Homo sapiens: one gene and its partners. The protein of the gene in region 1 interacts with the protein of each later gene in a biochemical or structural test. Each region holds a gene or a part of one and is shown on either strand. Other genes may lie near its edges. The genes, in order: TRIM23, UBE2D4, UBE2W, UBE2N, CYTH2, LGALS8 and CYTH1.

Region 1 (3,500 bases):
TAAAAATTTAGACATTAACTACTGAACTATATTAGAAATTACTTTTGAGGTATGGGTAAAATGATTAATAGTCCATTTTGTTAGATTTAGTTTTTGTTTTTATATTTATTCTAGGTGATTCAGGTGTCTGGGGATTGAAAAAAAATTTTGCTTTATTGGAGCTTTTGGAACGACTGCAGAATGGGCCTATTGGTCAGTATGGAGCTGCAGAAGAATCCATTGGGATATCTGGAGAGGTATTGATCATACTTGGTGAAATATTTGTTACGAGCATGAATTTTTCTTTTAATAGATGCCATTATTAGCACAATATTACTTCATTTATTTCAGCAGGTAAATTTCTAGAAACACAACTTTTCATTACATTACAGTTCTGAAGGCCAACACTATTCCCAAGAGAAAAAACTAGAATTATTTGAAAATCCTATGCCTAAACTATGCTTTATGTGTGAACTTTTTTTTCCTTATCATAATTCAGTTCTACCAAGAATAAAGTGAAAAGAGGAAGAAGATTATGGAATAGTAAGAAAGATATGTAAGCAACAGTAGAGAAGAGGATGCAAAAGTAGTCAACAGTAAAACTCAATGAGAGAAAGAAAAACTCGATGTAAGAGGCCATTTAATACAGAGGGGAAAATGCCTTAAAGATAGCAGTAACTTCTGAGGGAATTGTTACTGTTATAGCTTCAAGAAAAGGTTAAACTTTGTATAGATGTACTGTCTTTATCCATACAGGTAGATGTCTAGTAAATATCAGAATCCATGAACACTGGATTTTAATAATGTAAAAGTATATTTTTAGCACTTATGTGTTTGCATAGCTGCACATATGTACTATAGGACATGGCTTTCGTAGGCTGTTATGGGTAAAAATATATTTGGAGTAAATATCAGTTAATGATTTTGGTGATCAACTTGCAAACCACATATTTTGTATGAAGGAAAAAAAATGTCGGATTGCTTTCACTTCTCTTTCATTAGATGATGATTTCTTTATACTAAAGTGAATCAGTGAAATGAATTTCAAACTGCAACACTCTGTTTTCTAAAAGTTATGCAGTTCTTTCTGTGCTAAATCTTTAATCTTTATTTCAAAAGACATTACTGTTAGCTAATGTTGACATTATAGTTTATAATTTATTTATTTGTCAGGTCTGGGAAACAGAAGACCTGAATTTTTATGGTACATGTGTTTATTTCTCATAATTGCAAACAAAACTCTTCCACTTTGGATTCATTTTTTATTTAATGTGATAAAGAATGACACCATTGATGTATTTAAACATTTTTATTTTTGAAAAAATTTATACTAAATTTCTCCCCTTCCAATTATGGCCTTTTAATATTGAGTAAAAGTGTTCAAAACATTCTTGATTATCTGACATGTAATTTTTTATCTACTTGAAATAAAAGTAATTATTTCATAATTAGTTATTTTTTGTAATTCCTGAAAACTAGAAATAATATTTACATGCTTACATATAGGTTTTATTTATTTGTTTATTGTTATTTTTTAAGACAGAGTCTCACTCTGTCACCCTTGCTGGAGTGCAGTGGCGTGATCTCAGTTCCCTGCAGCCTCCACTTCCTGGCTTCAAGTGATTCTCGTGCCTCAGCTACCTGAGTAGCTGGTATTAGAGGCATGTACCACCACACCTGACTAATTTTTGGATGTTTAGTAGAGATGGACTTTCCCCATGTTGGCCAGGCTGGTCTCTTACTCCTGGCCTCAAGTGATCACCTGCCTCAGCCTTCTTAAAGTGCTGGGATTACAGATGTTAGCCACTGAGCCTGGCCTATTTTTTTTTTTATTTGCTTAAATCAGTGGTTTTCTGCCGTGATTGTGCAATAGACTCACCTGTGGAGCTATTAAAATAACATGGCGTATAATTAGAAAAATATATACAAGTCTAGGGTTCATCCACAACCTGTTGAAATAAGAATTTCTCTTCCAGACAGCTATGTTTTTAAAAGCTTACAGCTAATTCTGATGCATACTCCTACATTTTCTAAATAGCATTTGTGCTTCTGTCCTTCCTATACATCATCATGACAACTAATATTTAAAGCTATGGGGATGTATTTAATATCAGATTTTTGTAGTTTTACAGAAAGACTTTTGACTTCTCTATGGTTTAGTTTCTTTTGTGTAAAGTGAGGGGATTTGGTGGAAGAGATCTTTGCACCGAATATGAATCTATGAGAATAGTTCTATTTTTGGCTTCAAATTCATAACATATATTGGCCAGTTAATCTTGGAAATAGCTTCTTACCCCTAGAAATGAATGCTTCTCAGATGAGTATTGAATGACCTTTGTTCTTAATGACCAATATATTTTCATATGTAAATATTGTTCAGTTAAGCAAAAAGGATTATGGATTCTATATTTAAAAATTCGTCATGTTATACTGATTGGGTTCAATTTTAAGGCATTAATTTTTTGTTTATCAGAGCATCATTCGTTGTGATGAAGATGAAGCTCACCTTGCCTCTGTATATTGCACTGTGTGTGCAACTCATTTGTGCTCTGAGTGTTCTCAAGTTACTCATTCTACAAAGACATTAGCAAAGCACAGGCGAGTTCCTCTAGCTGATAAACCTCATGAGAAAACTATGTGCTCTCAGCACCAGGTGCATGCCATTGAGTTTGTTTGCTTGGAAGAAGGTTGTCAAACTAGCCCACTCATGTGCTGTGTCTGCAAAGAATATGGAAAACACCAGGGTCACAAGGTATGAATTTAATTATTAATCAGTTGGATCACTGTAGCTACTTTACCAGCTCAGTATTCGTTTTCACTGACCTGGTTCTTTATTCTGAAAGTAGGGATTGAAGAAGAGTTAAGTGATGAGTGATTGGGTTTGGTAGCATGAAAATAAATGAGAGATTTAATTTCTGAATGTTATAAAAAAAAAAAAACTTCAAAGAGGCATCATGATTCTTCACAAAAAAATAGCTTTCGAGCAGGAAACAAACATTCTGTTTGCTTGCATGTTTTCATAATGCACCAGATTGTTTTGACAATATTTATGTCTGTTAGCTCTTACTTAGGATATGATTTTAGAGATAGTCTCTTGGTTTTTTGTTTAGCAATAAACGGACTTCCAAATTTTAAATTACTTCTTTGCAGTACAGTTTTCTTATAAAGGAGTGAAAGTAAATTAGTATTTTTCTGTGTCATAAAAGTCACTTGTGGCTGATGCTTTTTTGTATTAATAGGGATTTAAATAGTTTTTTATATTATTAGTCAATACTATGAGTTCTTTTCTCTAATTATGGTACATTTTATAGCATTCAGTATTGGAACCAGAAGCTAATCAGATCCGAGCATCAATTTTAGATATGGCTCACTGCATACGGACCTTCACAGAGGAAATCTCAGATTATTCCAGAAAATTAGTTGGAATTGTGCAGCACATTGAAGGAGGAGAACAAATCGTGGAAGATGGAATTGGAATGGCTCACACAGAACATGTATGGATTTTTTTTCTTCTTCACTTT
Region 2 (3,500 bases), on another chromosome or scaffold:
GTGGTGAGGGAGTACTACTGGTATCTAGTCGGCAAAGGCCAGGGTATTCCAGGGATTCCCTGCAGTGCACAGGAGAGCCACCCTTCCCATGACAGATAATGATCAGCCCCAAGTGTCAATAGTGCCAAGGTGGACACACCCTGGTTTAGGACTGGTGAGTCACACCTTCACTTTTCTTTATTAAGTTAAAAGAATAGCAAGCCTCCTTTGCCCTTCATGCACACACCATCCCATCAGTGGAGCTTTAGAGAGCAGTGCCACCAAAGGGAAGGAGAAGCCCAGGGAGCTGCCTCGACCACCCTGCCCTAGCATGTCTTGTGCACCGCAGGTCGTCTCACTCCCTGGACCCTTGGACCTCGTACTCCTTCTCACCTGGGCTCTGCATGGGTGGCCGAGCCTGCCCTGAGGCTCATAGTCCTGTGGAGGAGACAGGGCATTTAGCATGTGAGCTACTCAGCACTGGGAAGGAGCACAAGCAGTGGTTGGCAGCAGGAGCCAGGGTGGTGGAGAGATTGCCCTGAGAAAGGGGAACTGCAGGAGCTCAGCAAGAGGGCGGACAGGTCCCCAGGAAACTGCCCCAGGGGAGTGAGCCTGTGAGGAGTTGGGAAGGAGGCCAGAGGGGTACGGATGGCCCCAGGAGTAGGGTCTGCACGCCGTTGTGGGGATCGCCACACCGACACAATCACTCTGCTGCCTTGTGGAGAAAAGGCTGGGGTTCAAGTGATTCTCCTGCTTCAGCCTCCTGAGTAGCTGGGACTACAGGCACTCGCCACCACATGTGGCTAATTTTTGTGTTATTTTTAGTAGAGACAGGGTTTCACAATGTTGGCCAAGCTGGTCTCGAACTCCTGGCCTTAGGTGATCCACCCACCTCCGCCTCCCAAAGTGCTGGGATTCCAAGTGTGAGCCACCACGCTTGGCCAGGTTGTGCATTTTGTCAAGACTTACTCGAAAGTCCTGCATCTGCATCAGACCCCTTAGCTGAGGGGTTGTGATATTGCTATGTCTTACTACCTTGACTTGGCCTTGATGCCTCAATTTGAGTCAGAGGCTTAGCTGCTGTTTTGCATGTTGTTTATCTGAGTCAATGTGAAGAAGCCCCTTCTGTGCTCACCAGCTGCAGCTCTGTCCAGACATCGCCACCAGAGGCTACCTGGTGCCTGAGCATTTTAAATCTTTGTTAAATATGCTTAGGATCCCAGAGACCTTTTAAGCTTTTAGCAAGGGAGTGGAGTGTGCTGAGCAGGACAATGACAGATGCTAAAATAGCTTCACCACATTGGAGTACAACTGCTGTTCAAGGGAGTTTGGTTGAAAAATCATAAGCATGCTTCATGGTGCTGTGATCCACCCCTTCTCCCTTCCCCTCTGGAGAGACTGTGGCAGAGTCTTATCAAGTAGTAATTTTCTAGCTTGTCTCTTTCATTACTGTGTGAGCAGCTGAGGATTTTCCTTAAACAGATACCAATGTAGTCCTGAATGTCTGTTGGGCATTTTCAGCATACCTAATTGCCTAAGGACAAAGGAGAAACAGTGATTATTATTATTATTTTTTAATTATTATTATTATTTTTGAGACACGGTTTCACTCTTGTCTCCCAGGATGGAGTGCAGTGGCACAATCTCAGCTCACTGCAACCTCCGCCTCTCGGGTTCAAGCGATTCTTCTGCCTCAGCCTCCTAAGTAGCTGAGATTACAGGCACCCGCCACCACGCCGGCTAATTTTTTGTATTTTTAGTAAAGATGGGGTTTTGCCATGTTGGGCAGGCTGGTCTCAAACTCCTGACCTCAGGTGATCCGCCCACCACGGCCTCTCAAAGTGCTGGGATTACAGGCGTGAGCCACCGTGCCCAGCCAACAGTGGTTATTATTAAAAAACTAAGAAGTAAGCTCTGTGGGTGAGTTGGGATTATTTTAACAAGGAGAGATGTGAGCTGAAAGGTGACAGTGACACTCTATGAGAGAAGAAAGTGCTTCTGTCTTTTAAAAATCTCCTTCCACAGGGGAACAGGAGCAACGATTTATGTTTTGGCACAAATTTTCTGACAATAGGAGGAATCTGGCAAGATTGCATGATCTTTATTGGAGATATTGAGGCAGATACTTAATGTCTGCGATGATTTTGAAGTTTGACCCTTCCTGGGAAAAATTACAGATGTTCAAGCTCACATGCACACAACTCTCTTCTCATATTCGAAAGTAAGTTTAAAAAAAACTATTAAAAACTATATCAAACATGCAAAAAATTGTAGATAATGATATAAAGGATGTTTGTGCATCCTCCATCTAGACTAAGAAGTACCAGTGAGTTCTCAAAGCTAGCGGAGGAGGCAAAATCCCTTTTTTTTTTTTTTTTTTTTTTTTGAGACGGAATCTCGCTCTGTCACCCAGGCTGGAGTGCAGTGGCGTGATCTCGGCTCACTGCAACCTCTGCCTCCTGGATTCAAGCAATTCTCCTGCCTCAGCCTCCCAAGTAGCTGGGATTACAGGCATGTGCCACATGCCCGGCTAATTTTTTTGTATTTTTAGTAGAGACGAGGTTTCACCATATTGGCCAGGCTGGTCTCGAACTCCTGACCTTGTGATCCACCCACCTCAACCTCCCAAAGTGCTGGGATTACAGGTGTGACCACTGTGCCCGGCCGGCAAAATCCTATGTTCCTTTGCCCCAGCCCCTGCGTTGGGGTCACTGCTCACCCAGAGGGAGTGTAGGTGAGGCAGATTCTTAGGCTCCTATAGCAGTACAAGCTGCACCTGACTCAGAGCACCTTGCACATCACAGACAGCGGACTCTTCATGGGTCCCACAACATCCCTGGGAGAGGTACCATGTACCTACTTATAGTGAAGGCTCTGAGGTCCAAGGTCATTTGAAGAAGTAATGTGTGGCTGTGGTTTAAAAAAGAAAAAAAAAGTCAAATGTAGGACAGTATACAGTAGAAAATAGGACCTTCTTTAAACTTTGTCTCTCTAGCCACGCCTGGCCCCCCCGCCTTTTTTTTCCATAAGGCATTGAGTCCTACTTGTCTTTTCATTTCTCTTCCAAGAGTAATCTCAACCTGGATAAGCACTTGTTTGTGCTTCCTTGTTTTTCCCATGAATGGAACAGACCTTTCCGTGAATCTGCATCTTGCTTTTCCCATAGCAATATATCTTGGAAATTGTTCCATATGATCACATTCATGTTTTAAAAATTCACCTCATTCTTTTTAAACAGGTGTAATATTCTGTTGCTTATATATAACATTAATTTAACCAGTAATCAATCTGAAGACATTTAGGTTTTACATCTTTTGTTACAGTGGTTATCCTTACATATTTGAAGTGCACAAGGGTATTTTAGGGCTAAATTCTGAGAAGGGGGGGTCTTAGAAAGGGTGAAGTAGAAAGGTGGGGAGGGTTTGTGGCCTGGCAGAGGGTCCACGGCCTGAGCTTCTCTTTTTCTTTTTTTTTTATTATTATACTTTAAGTTCTAGGGTACATGTGCACAACGTGCAGGT
Region 3 (3,500 bases), on another chromosome or scaffold:
CAGCTAATTTTTTGTATTTTTTAGTAGAGACGGGTTTTCGCCATGTTGGCCAGGCTGGTCTCAAACTGCTGACCTCAGGTGATCCACCCACCTCGGCCTGCCAAAGTGCTGGGATTACAGGCATGAGCCACACCGAAAAATATCTTTTAAAAAAATAATTGTGGCCAAAGAAGAAACTCTTGGGTATTGCTTGTGTTTTAATGAAAATATCCTACTGGTCAAATGGCTTTTTATGGCAAAATGAATACCTCAAGGTAGATGTCCGTAAGATTTGTAAACTCCCATTCTGTACATCTACAACACATGGGAGTATCAGATGCATATGATGTAATAAACTATAGTTCATATTTATGAAAAATAAAATTTCATTAAAAAACAGTTGTGGACAGACTCCAGTGTGGAACTATAAGACCATGTAAGCATTTGTTTTCTTTTACAGAGCAATACTTTTTTTTAGCAAAAAGTAATGAAGAGGGTACTAGCACCGATAGATGTAATTGAGATAAATGTCATGCATAGAGCGTAGCCATTACAAAATCAAAGTCCTTTCAGGGAGTCTTCTGCAATTAGGTAGGATAAGTGACTTGATTTCTCTTATTTTGAGACTTTACTTTTGTTTTTTAGCTTTTTTTTTTTTTTTTATTAGTGGGAATGGAGAGTTGATGTCCAGAATTTAAAGAAAAAAAAGAAATAGATGCAAGTATGGAAAATCGTTCCTTTGGGAAAAAAATGCCTTTTGCTGTCTTATCTAGTCTTAGCCAAGGAAATGTGTCCCATATGTTAGTTAATATATTTGAAATATTAGAAGACTCTACTCATATGAAAGACTGCTTTATTAACATGTAAATCTTTGTAAAATTGTAACATTGTAACAAAATCAGATTCATAGCTAGATATTTAAAATATATATAAAACTTAGCTTATGGTAATTTCCTATAACATATTCCATATTAAACTATAGCATACCTTATTCTATTCATATTTACCTCACTGGTTCTTTTTTCTGCTCTATAAAGAGAAAAAAGGGTATGCCTAAAGCAATACTGTATATCTTTTATCAGTTTCTGCTATAACTTAAGGTAAGATTTCTCCTTACTGATATTCTGTTGTACTTGGGTATGAGGCAGTTTGCAGGGCTGAGATACTGTAAATCTGATTTAGGAATTGTTGGTTTATATCTGATGGGTTTTATAAAAATCTAATTATACTTACTAAATTAGAATCTGTGAAAGCAGGACACTTGAATTTGTATTTTTAAGCAGATCTTCCAACTATGTGTTCTTTTGTTTTTTTGTTTGATTTTTGGCGAGGTCAGGAATTAGGAATTACTGCTAACCTGTAGAATAAATATAGTACACAGTGTAAACATAAGACTTCTGCTTTCTTCGAGCAACTTTGGACTATGCTTACAGATTCCTCAGGATATATGAATTTATTCTCCTGCCTATTTGCTTAGGTAAATAAGTTTAAGAAAAACTACTTTAAGATATTTGTTGAATTATTAGAGCAAAGGAAGGAAATAATAGATTTATTACCATTCAAAACATTGCTGAGACATGATAGAGAAAGGAAAAACAGTGTTACAGAAGAATTGAGTAAAAGGGAAAGGAGAGTAAAACTGCAAATTGGGAGACTTGGTCAACTTTTGTATTTTTCGTCTAGGCACATAGTTATTTACTGATTAACAGCTAGTAACTTGTACCCATCATAATGGATGTGTAAGTTTAGAGGAGGTGGAATATATAACAGTCATTTCCCTTTGCACATGTGCCTTAGAGCTAACATTGTTAACAGGTAGTAGTAGGAGGAATGTTCCTACCACCTGTCATTCATATTTTCCCAAAATTGAATATTTTTGTTTGGAATTTTATCATACTTGATTTTTATATGCAGAGAGCAATGAGCAAAATCTGAAAAATCATTCTTATAAATGTAGTTGTCTTTCACTAGTAAAAAATACGTAGTTTAGAATTTTTAAGGAGAATTTATCAAAAATAACCGAAATAAAAAATAATTTGGCATCTTTTCCCTACTATGTGGTTATTCGTTCAGTGAAACCAATACTTACTGAGTTAATGAGAGTAAACAAATAAGCAGTTGTTTATCATGTTCCTGGCACTGATTTTGGTGGTTTTTTGTTTTTTTATAATCAATATTTGTTATATGTGGAGAATATTTTAGTTTTTGGTAGTAGAGAATATTTGAGTTTTAATGGAATTTTATTCTCTCTTAGGTCATGTTTACTGGTGAAAATATTCCTGTTCATCCTCATGTTTATAGCAATGGTCATATCTGTTTATCCATTCTAACAGAAGACTGGTCCCCAGCGCTCTCAGTCCAATCAGTTTGTCTTAGCATTATTAGCATGCTTTCCAGCTGCAAGGAAAAGGTAAGACTTTTCAGAATTATTCCAGATAATATCTCTTCTTTCAGTTAGGTAGATAAATAATTTTAATATGTAATTATTTTTATTTGGAGGAAGGATTTATGCTTTTTATTTGAAAATTATAGGGAATTTCATGTTTAGTAATAAATTGGAAAGTTATTTTGATACCTTTCATTCCAAATAGAAGTTTTACATGTTGAATGGGGTAGAAGCCAGACTTACTGTTTTATATTCTTTTAAACAGGAAATGTACGGTATTTTCTTAAAGCTGATTTTATTCCCAAAAGCATGCACAGGTAAAAGTATACAAGAAATTCTTTTTGTAGATTTCACAGTGGAAAGCCTCAGAAAAGTGCATCATAGCTTCCTTCTCCCCTCTGCCAGCTCCCACCCGATCAACCTGTTTCAGGGAATTTTTCAGGAACCAGAGCTTCCCTGTCCTAATGATTAGGTTGAAGGAGGAAGACCAGTTTACCAGTCGAATTTTCAGGGCGTTTCTTCCTGTTCTCCTTTATTAATCCACAGATTCTATGTCTGATGGAAGTGGGGGGAAAAAAAACAAAAAGAAAAAAAATCACTTAATTAAACTTAAAATGTAGGCTGGGCACGGTGGCTTACACCTGTAATCCCAGCACTTTAGAAGGCCTAGGCAGGTGAATCACCTGCGGTCAGGAGTTCGAGACCAGCTGGCCAACATGGTGAAACCCTGTCTCTACTAAAAATACAAAAATTAACTGGGTGTGATGGTATATGCCTGTAATCCCAGCTACTCAGGAGACTGAGGTAGGAGAATTGCTTGAACCCAGGAGGTTGCAGTGAGCCAAGATCATGCCACTACACTACAGCCTGGGTGACAGAGCGAGACTCCATCTCAAGAAAATAATAATGAAATAAATTTAAAATATACATATAAATTTAGGATACCCTTTAAATGTATCTGAATCCTCTGTACACTTCTGACACTCTTGTCATTCCTGCTTAAGGGTTAGTATAGCATAACATTTATGTATTTCTACATTTTAAAACCCCTCTTAAATCCCTATGAGGGTTTTCCTTTTGCATTCTGTTTAAAGGAGAAACAGCTTTGCCCTAGAGGTTAGGGAGTTATTTGTGT
Region 4 (2,882 bases), on another chromosome or scaffold:
AACCATGAAATTCCAGATTTAAATCTGTTGCACTACAAAAATGTCTAAATGATGTCTGCTAAATTTGTGAGTTATAGAAGTACAGAAATAAGTCATTTTCATTTCAAATGCAGTGAATTTCTAATTTCATGGTATCATATTTTTTTCCTTTGCAGTTTTGGTAAGACTCCCCCATTACTTTGCTAAGACTTGCTTTCTCAACCAGTGGGATGAAACGAGTGCCAGTGTGTTGACTGAGCCTTCTTAGGACTTAAGGGGCTCTGGGAGAGGCCAAGGCAGCAGTTGAAAACTGCAGCTTCACCTGGCCTTTGGGCCTGTTTTCCCTGGCCCACACAGTGTGGCTGGTTAAAACATTCTGAATTTGATGCCAACATTTTTAAAAATTGGGAGATTTGCATGAAAATCCAGAATTCGGGTAACTTTTGAATGATCTGAAGATCTGGCAACAGTAGACCTGACCCACCTTTGTGCACGGGACTTAACTGAGAGGATCTGAGTAGCAGACACCCTAAGAGCATGTCATTGTCTTCTCACCAGTTACTCTCCAGTTGGCTAGAGTCCCCTCCGAGCACACCTGCTAGTCCTTCCCCCTTGTAAGCCTTTGACTTTGTAATCCCTGGGCTAAAGGAAACACATTATTCAACAAAAGTGTTTCATGTTTGCCCACTAGTTGTTGGGGATGATTAGGTGGTGAGTGAATGGCATGGGGCTTTCCTTTGGGGACCATATACTCTAATGGGGAAGGGGGACAGACAAATAGTTGTAACTCTGTCATGGAAAAGAGAAGTAACTTGGACAGACTTTTGGATTCAGGCCAGATGAACATCTCCAGGCAGAGGGAACAGCAGCATCTGCAAAGTCCTGGGAGAGAAGAAAAGAATCTGAACATTAAGTGGCTTCCTGAAAATCGACTGCCCAGGCCGGGCACAGTGGCTCATGCCTGTAATCCCAGCACTTTAGGAGGCCAAGGCAGGAGGATCACTTGAGTCCAGGAGTTTGTGACCAGCCTGGCTAACATAGTGGGACCCAGTCTTTATTTAAAAGAAAATTGCCCGTTAAGAGGCTTTTCTAAAATCTTGAGGTGTTGATAGGAGCTTTATGTTTTTTGACTTGATTGTTGTAGTCTACTTCGCTGCGATTTGCTTCTGCTCTAGTTATCCTTCATCCTCTCAAAGGCTGTCTAGCAAGATCTTAGGTCTAAAGTAAAGTCATCTCTTGGTATTTGTCGGGAACTGGTTCTAGGACTTCCTTTGGATATCCAAATTCGCAGATGCTCAAGTCTCTGGAATAAAATGATGTTGTATATGCATACAATCTACACAAATCCTCCCGCTTATGTTAATATTTAGATTACTTATAATACCTATTATAATGTAAGTGCTATGTAAATAGTTACACTATTGTTTAAGGAATAATGACAAAAATATACATGTTGACTACAGACACAATGTTTTTTGGAATATTTTGTCTGGTTGTTTGAATCCACGGAAGTGGAACCCATGGATATGGAGGGCCAACTATATAGAACCTTACTCTAGACCAAGAATGTACTTGTAAAACAATTTCAAAGAAGCACTTAAAAATAAGATTAAATACAAACCAACAGATAAAAGTCACAGGTGCTATGGTTGTTTGATGGAGAATGGGGAAGGAAATCTGTCCTAAAAGACATTATAAACACAGTGACCTAAGTGGAACTAAATTGGATCGAGGAAATGATAGGAATAGGCCTCATTTTTCTGTTGAATGGTTCAGGAACCTTTTTTTTTTTTTTTTTTTTTTTTTTTTTTGGCTGCTCTAGCCACTTTCTAGCTCTGTAGTTTAGGCTGGAGTGCTGTGGCATGATCTTGGCTCACTGCAGGTTCTGCCTCCCGCGTTCAAGCGATTCTCCTGCCTCAGCCTCCTGAGGAGCTGGGACTACAGACACCTGCCACCACACCTGGCTAATTTTTTGTATTTTTAGTAGAGACGGGGTTTCACCATGTTGGGCCAGGATGGTCTCCATCTCCTGACCTCGTGATCTGCCCGCCTCGGCCTCCCAAAGTGCTGGGATTACAGGCGTGAGCCACCGTGCCCAGCCCTGCCACATCTTTTTTGTTAGTTGCAGTAGCAATACAACCTTATCTAGAAAAGCTGGCCAAAAAAGAAAATACCATGATAATAGGGTACCTAATTTATTGCTTTATTTAAGAAAAATGTAATATTTCATTCGAATAAGTACTTTTGGGCTGGGATGATATTTCATTTAGCTACTTGGCATGCCACCCATCTTAGGGAATTATATGAGGGTTTATACTTTAAATAACATAAAAAGCAAAACATGCTGAATGTAATAATTTGAGAGAAGTGTAAATAATAAAAATCTGTCATCTACCACCTGGACTAGTAATATATTGTTTGTTTTCTTAACTATACACTCACCCCTGCACTCATCTCCATTTTATCGTGGAAGTCAGGTATATTCCAAGAGTTGGCTTTATGGTACTAACTTGCCATTAGCTGCCATGCTGGGAGCTGGACTAAAATTTTTCCTCTTGTGTGGAATCCAATATTAAGAGTTCGGGTCTCCCCGGCCCTCTCCCAGTTTCATCTTGTCACCCTTGAGCTGATCTCATTTCATGTGTCTTGTATGGCCCTGCTGGGTGGCACTGGTAAGTGTATGAACATAGACTTGATACCAACCTCTGTCTCTACTACTGAATTGATCACATGATTTTTCTTTCTCAGTTTTATTTTTAAAGACTCCTGATCCATCTTACCATATGACTGCTTTTGAAATAGTTCCATGATGTAGATTAGTAAATATCGATAGTTCTTAAGTTTTATTATAACCTAGTAAGTTTACAAAGTCTCCTGGCTTAAGGTCGGGAGTAGATATCAGA
Region 5 (3,446 bases), on another chromosome or scaffold:
TTAATTATTTAACCACTTGGCCTGCTGACCCCCTCATTTCTTGGGGTTGACAGAGTCGAGGTGCTCCGTGGAGCCAGCCTGTTTCCCTGGACAGGGGCCTGGACCCGCCTGTCTCTGGGTGCTGCCTGGGCTGTCCCGGTGGGTCTGTTCTGGTTTCACCCCGAGCCCAGCAGGAGTGGAGTAAAGGGAGAAGGTTAATATGGTGGGAGTCTGGAGTTGGAATTGGCCGGGGACAGAGTTTAGAATGCAGGGATTCAGGGTCAAGGTCTAGCATTCATTCTAGAAGTTACTTGACAGCCATCAGCCAGTTACGCTACAGCCATCAGCTAGTTCCCATCGTTGCTTTCATGGGGCTTGAGGTCTTTGAGGGGCAGGAGATGAAGCTGGTGAGGTTGTGAGCTGGGCCAGGGCTTTGAGGACAACCTGGAGCTGGAAGAACATGCGACCACCTCAGGGAGGGTCAGGGAAGGATGAGTGGGGAGGTGGCCCATGTCCTGCAAGGGCCTTGCTGATGGGATGTCCTGAAGGGCTGGGCAGCCTTAGATCGGGCTAAGAGGGCAGGACTGTGGGCCAGTGCCAGAGCCAGGCTTGTCTGTTCTCAAAGGATCAGCCTCCTTTGGAGGACATTTTGTGTCAAGGATAGGGCTGAGGACCTGCGTTCTGAACGTCTTTCCTGGGATTCTTGACAGCCAAAGAAATTCGAGGATCGCCTCTATGAAGGTGAAGTCTTGGCATGTGGGGTACCCCTGAATCCTGGGCTAAGGTCTGTGACCTTTTGCCCTCCAGTTGGGGTATGTGTGGTGTCCCCAAAGAACAAGGGCTCGTGGATCCCGAGCAGGGTGCGATGGCGGATTGGGAGGTCCCATGTCACTCTCCCATGCCCGCCTTTGAAGCTGAGGCGCTCTTTAGTTAACAAACTACAAGTCCCAGCAGGGACCGGGACGCGGGTGGGAGAGGCGCCTGTGGCCCCGAGGCGTGCCGCGAGTTGTAGTCCCTCCTGCCCGCTGTGTTCGCTTTTGAGCTCTCCGATGGGATGCGGCGCTTCGGAATTTCGGGCTTTGATCCCTGTCCCGCCCTTGGCCACAGGCACCTGCCGGCCTGAAGGCCCCCGCGGTGGGGGTACCCTGCGCCCCTCCGCGGGAAGGTGGACTACAGTTATCGGCAGGCTGTGCGGCGCCAAAGCCACGGTGACCCAGACCCGAGGTTTTTCCGGGCGTCGCAGTTTCCCGAGACTCCGTGGCGGCGTTTGTCTTCTTTTTCTTAGTCAGATCCCGTACTTTTGTGGAGGGTAGAGGAGGCTTTGACCGCCGCGGCCCCGGGGGCTGGTGGGAAATGGAGTTCCAAATGAGAAAATAGAATTCCCCACTTCTCTTTCCCACAGGTGCCAGGGAAACGGAGTCATCGACCCAAGAAGGTCGTGGGAGATGAGGTCCCAGGGTAAACAGCGGGTCCCGCCACTATGTCACCCTTTCCTGCCGCCTCCCCGGATGAACTGCATGCAGGGCGGCCGGCTCCGTGGCAGGCAGAGGCAGGAAGAGGCGCGGAGCCCGCTGGTGGCGAAGAGGGGAGTGCGGCGGGAGGGGAGGGCAGAGGCAGGCGGCCGGTCGCGTGGGGCCTGGGCCGCCCCAGGAGGGCCTCTGGCTGGATTCTTAGCAGATGGAAGCCGTGCAAGGGCAGGAGGCAGGGGCCTGACGTGTTTGGATTGAGGTTGCAGGAGGGGCCCCTGGCTGCTTCAGGGAGAATAATTTGGAGGCGAGCGGGGAGGTGAGAGGAAGCTGTGCGGTGCAGGATGGCGTGGCTGTGGAGGTGGAGAACGTTGGGCCACGCTAGGAGTCTTGAAAGAGGAGCCAAAAGGACTTGCTGAGAGCCGCCGCAGCTGGTGAATGACGGTGCCATGACTGAGGTGGTCGAAAGGGAGTATTTAAGGGGAAATCAGGCATTCCGTTTTGACCAAATTAAGCTGGAGATGCCTGTGGAACATTCCAGCCAGGCTGCATCACGTCACACTGACCTTCAGCATTGCCCACAGTCCATCTTCCCCCAGGACCTGAGGATTTTGCGTCCGGCTCCCTCCTCGCCCAGGACCCCCAAGCTCCCAGCACGCTTCTGATTTTTTTTGTAGGTTTTTTTTTTTGTTTTTTGTTTTGTTTTGTTTTGTTTTTGAGAGGGAGTCTCACTTTGTGCCCTAGACTGGAGTGCAATGGCGCCATCTCGGCTTACTGCAACCTCCACCTCCCAGGTGCAAGCGATTCCCCTGCCTCAGCTTCCCGAGTAGCTGGGATTACAGATGTGAGCCACCGTACCCAGCTAATTTTTGTATTTTTAGTAGAGACGGGGTTTCACCATATTGGCCAAGCTGGTCTCGAACTCCTGACCTCAGGCGATCCATCTGTCTCAGCCTCCCAAAGTGCTGGGATTACAGGTGTGAGCCACCGCGCCAGGCCTCAGCCCACTTCTTTTGGGTGGCAATGGTTTGGATATCGTTTGTCCTCACTAAAATTCATGTTGAGATTCGAGCCCCAGTGTGGCAGGTGTTGGGATGTGGGGCCTCATAAGGAGCTGTGTGGTCTTGGAGGTGGAGTCCTCATGGATAGATTAATGCCTGCCTTAAGGGGTGAGTGAGTGCTCACCCTTGGGAATTTGGGAATTTGGTTTTCTCTCCCTTGCTTCCTTCAGCACCATGTGATCTCTGTGCACACAGCTGCATCCTTCTGCCCTCCCCCAGAAGCAGCAGCAGCCTCAGGGATGAGGGAGGTCCTCAGTGAGTGCACCTGCCCAGTCTTGAACCTTCCAGCCATCAGAATCTGAGCCAAATCAACCTCTTCCTTTATAAAGACCCAGCCTCAGGTCTTCTGTCAGAGCAACACAAAATGGACTCAGCACGGATCAAATTGTGTCTCCCCCACCCCCACAAAAAACTTTATATTAAAATCCTAACCCCCAGCATCTCAGAATGTGATCTGATTAGGAAATAAGGTCATTGCAGATATAATTAGTTCAGATGAGGTCATTCATGTGGGCCCTAATCCAATAGGATGTGTGTCTTATAAAAGTTTGTACAGAGACCCAGACACACAGAAATGACACCATGTGGAGGTGAAGGCAGAGATTGGGGTGACGCCTCTACAAACCGAGGAAAACCAAAGCTGCCGGCACACCCTCAGAAGCCAGAGACCGGGGACTCATCCTCCCTCACAGCCTCAGGAGCAGCCAGGGCTGACACCCTCATCTCAGACTTCTGACCTCCAGCACTGGGAGACCTTCAGTTTTTGTGATTTAAGCCACTAATTTTGAGGTACTTTGTTATGTCAGCCCTAGATAACTAACCACTCCTCCCTCAGACCCAGGAGTCCAGGCCCAGCCCCTTCTTCCCTCAGACCCAGGAGTTGGGGACCCCGGCCCCTCCTCCCTCAGACCCAGAAGTCCAGGCCCCAGCCCTTCCTCCC
Region 6 (3,500 bases), on another chromosome or scaffold:
CTAGGCTGGGAGTGCCTGAGTCAAAGAGCACAGTCATGTGTTGCATAAGGACAGTTCAGTCAAAGATGAACCACATATACAACCGTGGTCCCATAAGATTGTCATATACTGTATTTTTACCATACCTTTTCTATGTTTAGGTAAGTTTATATGCACAAATACTTACCATCCTGCTCTGGTTGCCTACAGTATTTGGTACAGTGCCTGCTGTACAGATTCACTGGCCAGGAGCTATAGGCCACACCCTACAGCCTAGGTGTGTAGTTGGCAGTACCATCTAAGGTTGTTAAGTAATATTCTGTGATGTTTGCACGATGACAAAAGTCATGTAAGGACACATTTCTCAGAACATACCCCCTTCGTTAAGCAACACATGACTGTCTTTGCATTGAAAATTTTGATAGATACTAACTCGCCCTTCACAAGGGTAAAAACAGTTTGCACTCTCAACAGCCATGCTCCCACCTTCTTGCTGACATTACATCTTATTCTCTGTAATGTTTGCCAATCTGATGGGGGGCGGAAAGGACCACAGTGTCAAGTGTATTTTTGGATCATAGTTTTCAAGCATATTTTTAGTACCATTTATAATTTTTTTATATGTCAATATAAAATATTTAGAAAATATTTTCTACTGGATGTTACAAATTAATCTTTATTATCTTTTCTCAGGACTTACAAAGTACCCAAGCATCTAGTCTGGAACTGACAGAGATAAGTAGAGAAAATGTAAATATTAAATCTTTTAATGAGCCACTGGTTTAAAAATGTTGTTTTAGCTGCCATGTTAATGAAATGGCAAGAAGGCTGGGTTTTTGAAAATTATGCTTTTAGAACGCAAGTAATCACTTGAAAATTGAGATACATACTTGTGGTGCCAGGCACGCAGTAAGTTTTTGCTGATGATTCACCTGTCAGTTTCTGTAACTGCCACTCACTGTTCTTATGTAAAAAGCACTCTCTCACTCTTAACTGCTGAATAGTACTGTTCTGGGGTATTTCCAAATATTGAACATCAGCCAGTGCACTGGCAAATGAACTTCCATGTGTATCTTCAACCCCTGGGAGAATAACTGCAATTTAAAAATGCGCTGTTATTAATGGAGAAAGTGAGGTCTTACCGACTGGCACGTTCACACCTCACAGACAGAACAGAATCTTAGCATTCTGGGGGCACCCTGGAAAGGACAACTAAGACACGTTTGAAGTTCATGTAGTGCTGGGTGAAGGTGGTGGCTCAGGCCTGTAGTCCCAGCGCTTTGGCTGAGGTGGGGGGATTGCTTGAGCCTAGGAGTTTGAGATCAGCCTGGGCCACATAGGGAGAACCCCATCTCTACAAAAAATTAAAAAATTATCTGGGCATGGTGGCGCATGGCTGTGATCCCAGCTTTGGGTGGCTGAAGTAGGCGGATGACTTGAGCCCAGGAGGTTGAGGCTGCAGTGAGCCATGATTGAGCCACTGCATCCCAGTGTGGATGACAGAGTAAGACCCTGTCTCTTAAAAAAATTTCATATAGTTCTATGAAAAATTATTAATTTATGGTGGAGGATAAAGGACTCAGATGAACAGGGATATCAGACTCTCTTCTCAACCCGTGTAGCCCTTCACAACACCATACCATTCCGTCATAAAGCACCAGCTGCCTGGAGGTCACACCAGAGTGGAGCAGGAACATCCCAGGCTCCGGCCAGGCTCAGCTCAGCACAACCAAGACTTCAGATTATAAACTATAATTCTTCCCCTTCTAACATTGTTGTGTTTTGTTTCTTTTCCAATAGGTTCCAAAGTCTGGCACGCCCCAGCTTGTGAGTATTTTTGCCTGGGTTATTTCATGTGGAATATTTTATAAAGTTGCATAGAAAATGAACAGTTTAAACCGTGGAGGGCAGCTTCATTCATTCCATTCCTTACTGTAGAACTGTTTCCCTACAGCCTAGTAATAGAGGAGGAGACATTTCTAAAATCGCACCCAGAACTGTCTACACCAAGAGCAAAGATTCGACTGTCAATCACACTTTGACTTGCACCAAAATACCACCTATGAACTATGTGTCAAAGGTTTGAAGAGCACCAAATTTTCTTAACTCTATATAAAAATTAAGTTGTAATGAGCTGTTACGAGTAACCTGTATCCACAATAGAGGCCCAAAGCAGCCCCCTCTGCATTTGTGTGCCGTCCCTGGACGGATTCGAGAGTCAACCAGGCCTGCCTCTGAGCCATTCCTGTGTATTTCCTCAGCACCTCCCTGCTTGGCTGCTTCCCCTTCAGGCAGAACACAGTACTGCCTCAGACCCCAGGCACAGGGGGCCTTCCTGGCGTGTTTCACTCATACAGAGGGCATCGGGTCCCACCCTGTCACTCATTTCATCGTCTAAAATGTAATCATGTGTGTTTGCTTCGAGCCAGGGACAGTGCTGCTGCAGGGGACCCAGCTGGGACCAAGGCAGACTGTCTCTCCCCTCCTGGGATTTACAGGGTCATGGCTCTGAAACATTCCGTAGTGTTCTTTGGACACGAGTTTTCCCTGGAGATCGCTTTCTGCAGGCCTCTTGGTCCTGACTGTGGCTTCTTTTCAGAGGCTGCCATTCGCTGCAAGGTTGAACACCCCCATGGGCCCTGGACGAACTGTCGTCGTTAAAGGAGAAGTGAATGCAAATGCCAAAAGGTCAGTATCCTTCGGTACCAGTCACAGTGCAGATACTTCCGTGCCTGTTACCGCCTTCCACCCGTGAACGGTCCTGTGAGCTGGAAGAAGGGCTAGCGTCAGAATCTTCATTTCCAAAGTGAGATGATTCAAGCAGGAGGTGGTTAGATTGTGAACAGCCAGTGGGCAGCAGAGCCGACTAAGGCCGTGTTCTGACCTCGGCTTTTTCTGGCCAGACAAGAGAGTAGCATTTTTGTCCACGAGGCCTATCCTTGCCTTGTAGAACTCCAGAGCAGCCCCGTAAGATCAGGCAACATCTTTTCTTTTTTTTTTTTGAGATGGAGCCTCACTGTGTCACCCAGGCTGGAGTGCAGTGTCACAATCCCAGCACACCACAACCTCCGCTTCCTGGGTGTTCAAGCCATTCTCCTACCTCAGCCTCTGGAGTAGCTGGGATTACAGGCGCACCACCACGCCCAGCTACTTTTTGAATTTTTGTATTTTTAGTAGAGACAGGGGTTCACCATGTTGGCCAGGCTGGTCTGGAACTCCTGACCTCAAGTGATCCGCCCACTTCGCCCTCCCAGTGCTGGGATTACAGGTGTGAGTCACCACGCCCAGCCCAGGCAACATTTTTTAGGGCCCCTCTTGTCATGTGATTTAGAAAATTTCTGCTTTAACAACTTTTTCCACAGACGTCCAGCCTTCTGAAAGCTTGAAATTAGAGCTATTTCCTAGAAAGTGGCATACTTTCAAGAAGGAAGGAACACGGGTAGATGATGAAAAGAGAATACCTGCTTGAGAGGATCCCAGGCTCCTGCAGCCTGAAGTAGTCATTCAGTTTAGCGTTAAAC
Region 7 (3,500 bases), on another chromosome or scaffold:
TGGGAACAGGATCGTCTTTTGTAGGAAGGAAGAAAAAACATACAATTTATCAAGGGTCTCCTCTTTTAATTTGTTTAACCATGTGAATTTCATTAAGAAAGTGGTAGTAAGGCCCAGCTAGGGAATCAGGGAGGGGACAGTGGTTTGTAAACATGAAACTAAAAGCTTGAATAGAAGTCAGGCTGCTTCTTTATTTTCCTAATTGGGAAGGCTTATTTATTTTGTCACTGTGAGCTGCCTGAAAGCAGAAATGGTCATAATCTTCTAGTCTCAGCATCTAGCAGGCTTGGCTTACTATAGGCACATGAATGCTTGTGGAATGAATGAAGAGAAAGGGGAGGAGGAAAAAATATTTCTAGAATCAGAGACATAAATTGTCATCTTTTATCCCAGAATCTCTATGAGAGCATAAAAAATGAACCCTTTAAAATCCCAGAAGACGACGGGAATGACCTCACTCACACTTTCTTCAATCCAGACCGAGAAGGCTGGCTATTGAAACTCGGTAAGCGCACCTCTGAGTCAGGGCTCCTAAAGCTGAGACTTAGGAAGAAAGGCGGTGTGTGTGCGTGTGTGCGTGCGTGCGTGTGTGCGCGTGTGCGTGTTTGTGCGTGTGCATGTGTGCGCGTGCGTGTGTGTGCACGCGCATGCATGTTCACACACATTCATGGACACACACGCACCATGTAGGAAAGGGGGTGGCTTATAGAGGACTCCAGAGAGACTTTGGTATGAGTTCTGTTCTAACAAAGGTCGGCTTCCAAAAGGGAAGTGACTTCATAGTCATTGCCCCCATGGGACACAGAGACTACTGGGGACAGACTTACTCCACCATAAATATTGCCCACATGTGTCTGTGCTCCACATTTTTACCCTTGAATTGGTTGACCAGGTTTTGTTTCAAGGCAGTTCCCTGAGCACCTGGTCCGTTTGCCTTCCCTGTCCCCATAACCACTGGGAGGGTGGCCGACCTTGTCCATCTTTCTACTTCCCATCCCACAGATTTGTACCTGGCGCTCCTGCCCCCACCCCAGTGCATCGTCACTTCCTTCTGCATCTGGCTCCCCCACAGGCAGTGTGCATGGCAAGCCTAGAGCCCTTGGCTGCAGCTCAATCCACAGCACTCTTACTCATTCTTGGGCAGTGGTTTTTTTTTTTTCTTTTTTTTTTCCCCTCCTTTTCAATCTGAATCAGCCACATTAATTATTTTGTTCATTTAGAAAAGCTGAAAATGCATTTCTCTTCCCTTTGCCAGAAGTGATGAGCTTGTATTGCTGAGATTTGTGGTCATGCCTTGCCGTGAAGGTGACAGGGTAATCAATAGGAAAGACTTTAGTAGGGTTTTCATACACATTCATGTCCACATGTGTTTACTTTATTAATGGTTTCAGAACATAGAGCTCTAGACTCTCTGGACATAATGATGTCCTTTTTTTTTTTTTTTTTTTGGACACTAGCAGGGTACTTTCCTCTGTTGCCTTCTGCTTTAGCCTTTGATGAGTTGGGTTCTCACATTAGCAGGGGCTGTTCCGTCCTATACCAGCCCAACTGCTTGCCCCAGTGATTAGAAGTCAGTACTCTCTTGGTCATTACTGACACATCTGGGAAGGCTAAAATGGAATCCTTTATTTCTGACTAGGTCAGATAGCAGTAGACTTTATATTTCCTTTTAAAGTCATATCCCAAGTCCTTGTGCTTATACATAATGACTTAATTCATAAATTCCCCTTACAGCACCACTTCACCGATCAGTTTTAAATATCTCTTGAATTGGCCATCATTTTATATATCTTTAAGCCCCCAGAATCTTTGAAGTTAAGGCTCTAAAATTACTAACCCCATAGGCAGCCTTCCCTTCCACATTCCTATTGCCAAGTGGATGGAGTTGAAAGGAAACCTACTGGAAACGTTTAAAGTGTGTTCAAGTTTGGATTTACTTCCCCCTACAGCGAGATTTGTTTAAATGCTAATACTAAGTGTTAGCTTTGACAGCCCAGATACTAAAATTAGAACAGTACAAAGATTATCTTGGTTCTTAGACCAGGATGACATGCAAATTCATGAGGCATCTCGTATTTTAAAAAAGAGAAAATTTAACCAAGTGTGGGACTCAGTTTTAGCTCATTGCATTACTTTTTCTAAACCTCCATCAAATCCTTCTAGACTCTGAATATTGTGTTTTCATTGTAGCACACTTAGTATCACTCTTTGTGTTTATGTGCTGCAGAAGGCAGGGCTTCCAGCCGTCTGTAGCTGTGTGTATATGTCTGTGTATGCATATAGCCATAAGAATGTGTATTCTTGTGTATACACATCAGTACATGTGTACTCATGGGTATATGTGTGTGCATTCTTACACACACTTTAAAAAGTGACAGCCATCTCAAGAAAGACATTTAATTTTCCCTGAAATAACCTTAGCTTTCTTTGCTCTGATTCTGGATATACTAGTAAACATTGGCTTTGTAAAAGCCGATTTGTGGCATCTTTGGGGCCAGGTTTCCAGTAGTGCCTCAAATCTTGCCTTGATGAGGTGGAACGTGGCATGTAAGAGCCCCTCGTTCACGTGCCAGACAGTAGTGGGATCATTTGCCCGTTGAGTGTTTTTAGTTCAGCTCTCTCCCCAGGCAGGCATGAATGTGACTGATACATTGCACTTTAAGATTAAGGAATCGGGTTTAATTTCTTTGTTTTAATTTTCTTTTCTCCCTCATTTGTATGTTTCCATGATTTTGGCTCTCCTTTTCCTTGCCCCAAACTCCAGGAGGTATGTAACCCTCAGCCTGCTCGCTCGCTCTGCTAGGCCACTGTCATTACTGCAGCATTTTCTGATTTCGTTATTTTTGGTTATTTTGTTTTTTAATTGCCGGTGGTAGTGTTAATGCTGCTTCTAACTTATTGTACAGTCCCTAGGGAACTGGTCAGGATCAGGGGTTTGGAGCAATTTTCGTTTTTCTTTTTTGGAGGAGTATATGTTATATTCATTACTGAATGCAGTAATGCAAGAAAACATACTAAGAGTGGGTTTGTAAAAGCAGAGGAAGTTTCCATGACATTTTCACTTGGAATTATTGGCTAAGACATGCGCTATGTTTGATATTCAATTTGACGTCCATTAATCAGCCTGATTGAAAGTTAATCTCTGACGTGGGGAAGAGGAGAAAGAAGAGAAGGAAGTCTTTCTTTTTTCTTCTTTTTTCAAGCTGAGACTTACTCCAGAGAGAACAAAGTCTTGACTTCCCAAAGCTATGGAAAGCTTCTGATTTACCATGATGGAAAAGCAAACTAGGGAAAGAACTAAATTAGATGATACTTAAGACATTTGCCTTTGCACGAAAAGGGGAAATGGTATTTCCTAAACTCAAAATGATACCGAGTGAAGGTGAAAAAAACAAGTCCAAACCAAAAAACCCTCCCTGAAGTCCTCGTGTTTAGTTTCCTGGGGATCAGAGAAGGGTATTAACAGCCTCGGCTCTGTTGTTATGTTTTGTTTTGCTCCC

What was found.
Region 2: the proteins of TRIM23 (region 1) and UBE2D4 form a complex in vitro, tested with the Homo sapiens proteins (one study listed by BioGRID).
Region 3: the proteins of TRIM23 (region 1) and UBE2W form a complex in vitro, tested with the Homo sapiens proteins (one study listed by BioGRID).
Region 4: the proteins of TRIM23 (region 1) and UBE2N form a complex in vitro, tested with the Homo sapiens proteins (one study listed by BioGRID).
Region 5: the proteins of TRIM23 (region 1) and CYTH2 form a complex in vitro, tested with the Homo sapiens proteins (one study listed by BioGRID).
Region 6: the proteins of TRIM23 (region 1) and LGALS8 form a complex in vitro, tested with the Homo sapiens proteins (one study listed by BioGRID).
Region 7: the proteins of TRIM23 (region 1) and CYTH1 form a complex in vitro, tested with the Homo sapiens proteins (one study listed by BioGRID).

Annotation. Positions count from the first base shown.
Region 1 is NC_000005.10:65,610,834-65,614,333, reverse strand, and holds part of TRIM23 (E3 ubiquitin-protein ligase TRIM23), read left to right. Parts: intron 1-114; coding exon 115-236; intron 237-478; exon of another isoform or gene 479-607; intron 608-2,452; coding exon 2,453-2,731; intron 2,732-3,290; coding exon 3,291-3,473; intron 3,474-3,500.
Region 2 is NC_000007.14:43,943,436-43,946,935, forward strand, and holds part of UBE2D4 (ubiquitin-conjugating enzyme E2 D4), read left to right. Parts: exon of another isoform or gene 1-1,513; intron 1,514-2,698; exon of another isoform or gene 2,699-2,889; intron 2,890-3,500. UniProt on the Homo sapiens protein: Accepts ubiquitin from the E1 complex and catalyzes its covalent attachment to other proteins. In vitro able to promote polyubiquitination using all 7 ubiquitin Lys residues, but may prefer 'Lys-11' and 'Lys-48'-linked polyubiquitination.
Region 3 is NC_000008.11:73,809,363-73,812,862, reverse strand, and holds part of UBE2W (ubiquitin-conjugating enzyme E2 W), read left to right. Parts: intron 1-2,233; coding exon 2,234-2,389; intron 2,390-3,500. UniProt on the Homo sapiens protein: Accepts ubiquitin from the E1 complex and catalyzes its covalent attachment to other proteins.
Region 4 is NC_000012.12:93,405,184-93,408,065, reverse strand, and holds the end of UBE2N (ubiquitin-conjugating enzyme E2 N), read left to right. Parts: 3' UTR 1-2,382; downstream 2,383-2,882. UniProt on the Homo sapiens protein: The UBE2V1-UBE2N and UBE2V2-UBE2N heterodimers catalyze the synthesis of non-canonical 'Lys-63'-linked polyubiquitin chains. This type of polyubiquitination does not lead to protein degradation by the proteasome.
Region 5 is NC_000019.10:48,479,369-48,482,814, forward strand, and holds the end of CYTH2 (cytohesin-2), read left to right. Parts: 3' UTR 1-2,946; downstream 2,947-3,446. UniProt on the Homo sapiens protein: Acts as a guanine-nucleotide exchange factor (GEF). Promotes guanine-nucleotide exchange on ARF1, ARF3 and ARF6. Activates ARF factors through replacement of GDP with GTP.
Region 6 is NC_000001.11:236,540,982-236,544,481, forward strand, and holds part of LGALS8 (galectin-8), read left to right. Parts: intron 1-672; coding exon 673-729; intron 730-1,779; coding exon 1,780-1,806; intron 1,807-1,933; coding exon of another isoform or gene 1,934-2,059; intron 2,060-2,578; coding exon 2,579-2,667; intron 2,668-3,500.
Region 7 is NC_000017.11:78,695,274-78,698,773, reverse strand, and holds part of CYTH1 (cytohesin-1), read left to right. Parts: intron 1-393; coding exon 394-505; coding exon of another isoform or gene 506-506; intron 507-2,764; coding exon 2,765-2,767; intron 2,768-3,500. UniProt on the Homo sapiens protein: Promotes guanine-nucleotide exchange on ARF1, ARF5 and ARF6. Promotes the activation of ARF factors through replacement of GDP with GTP.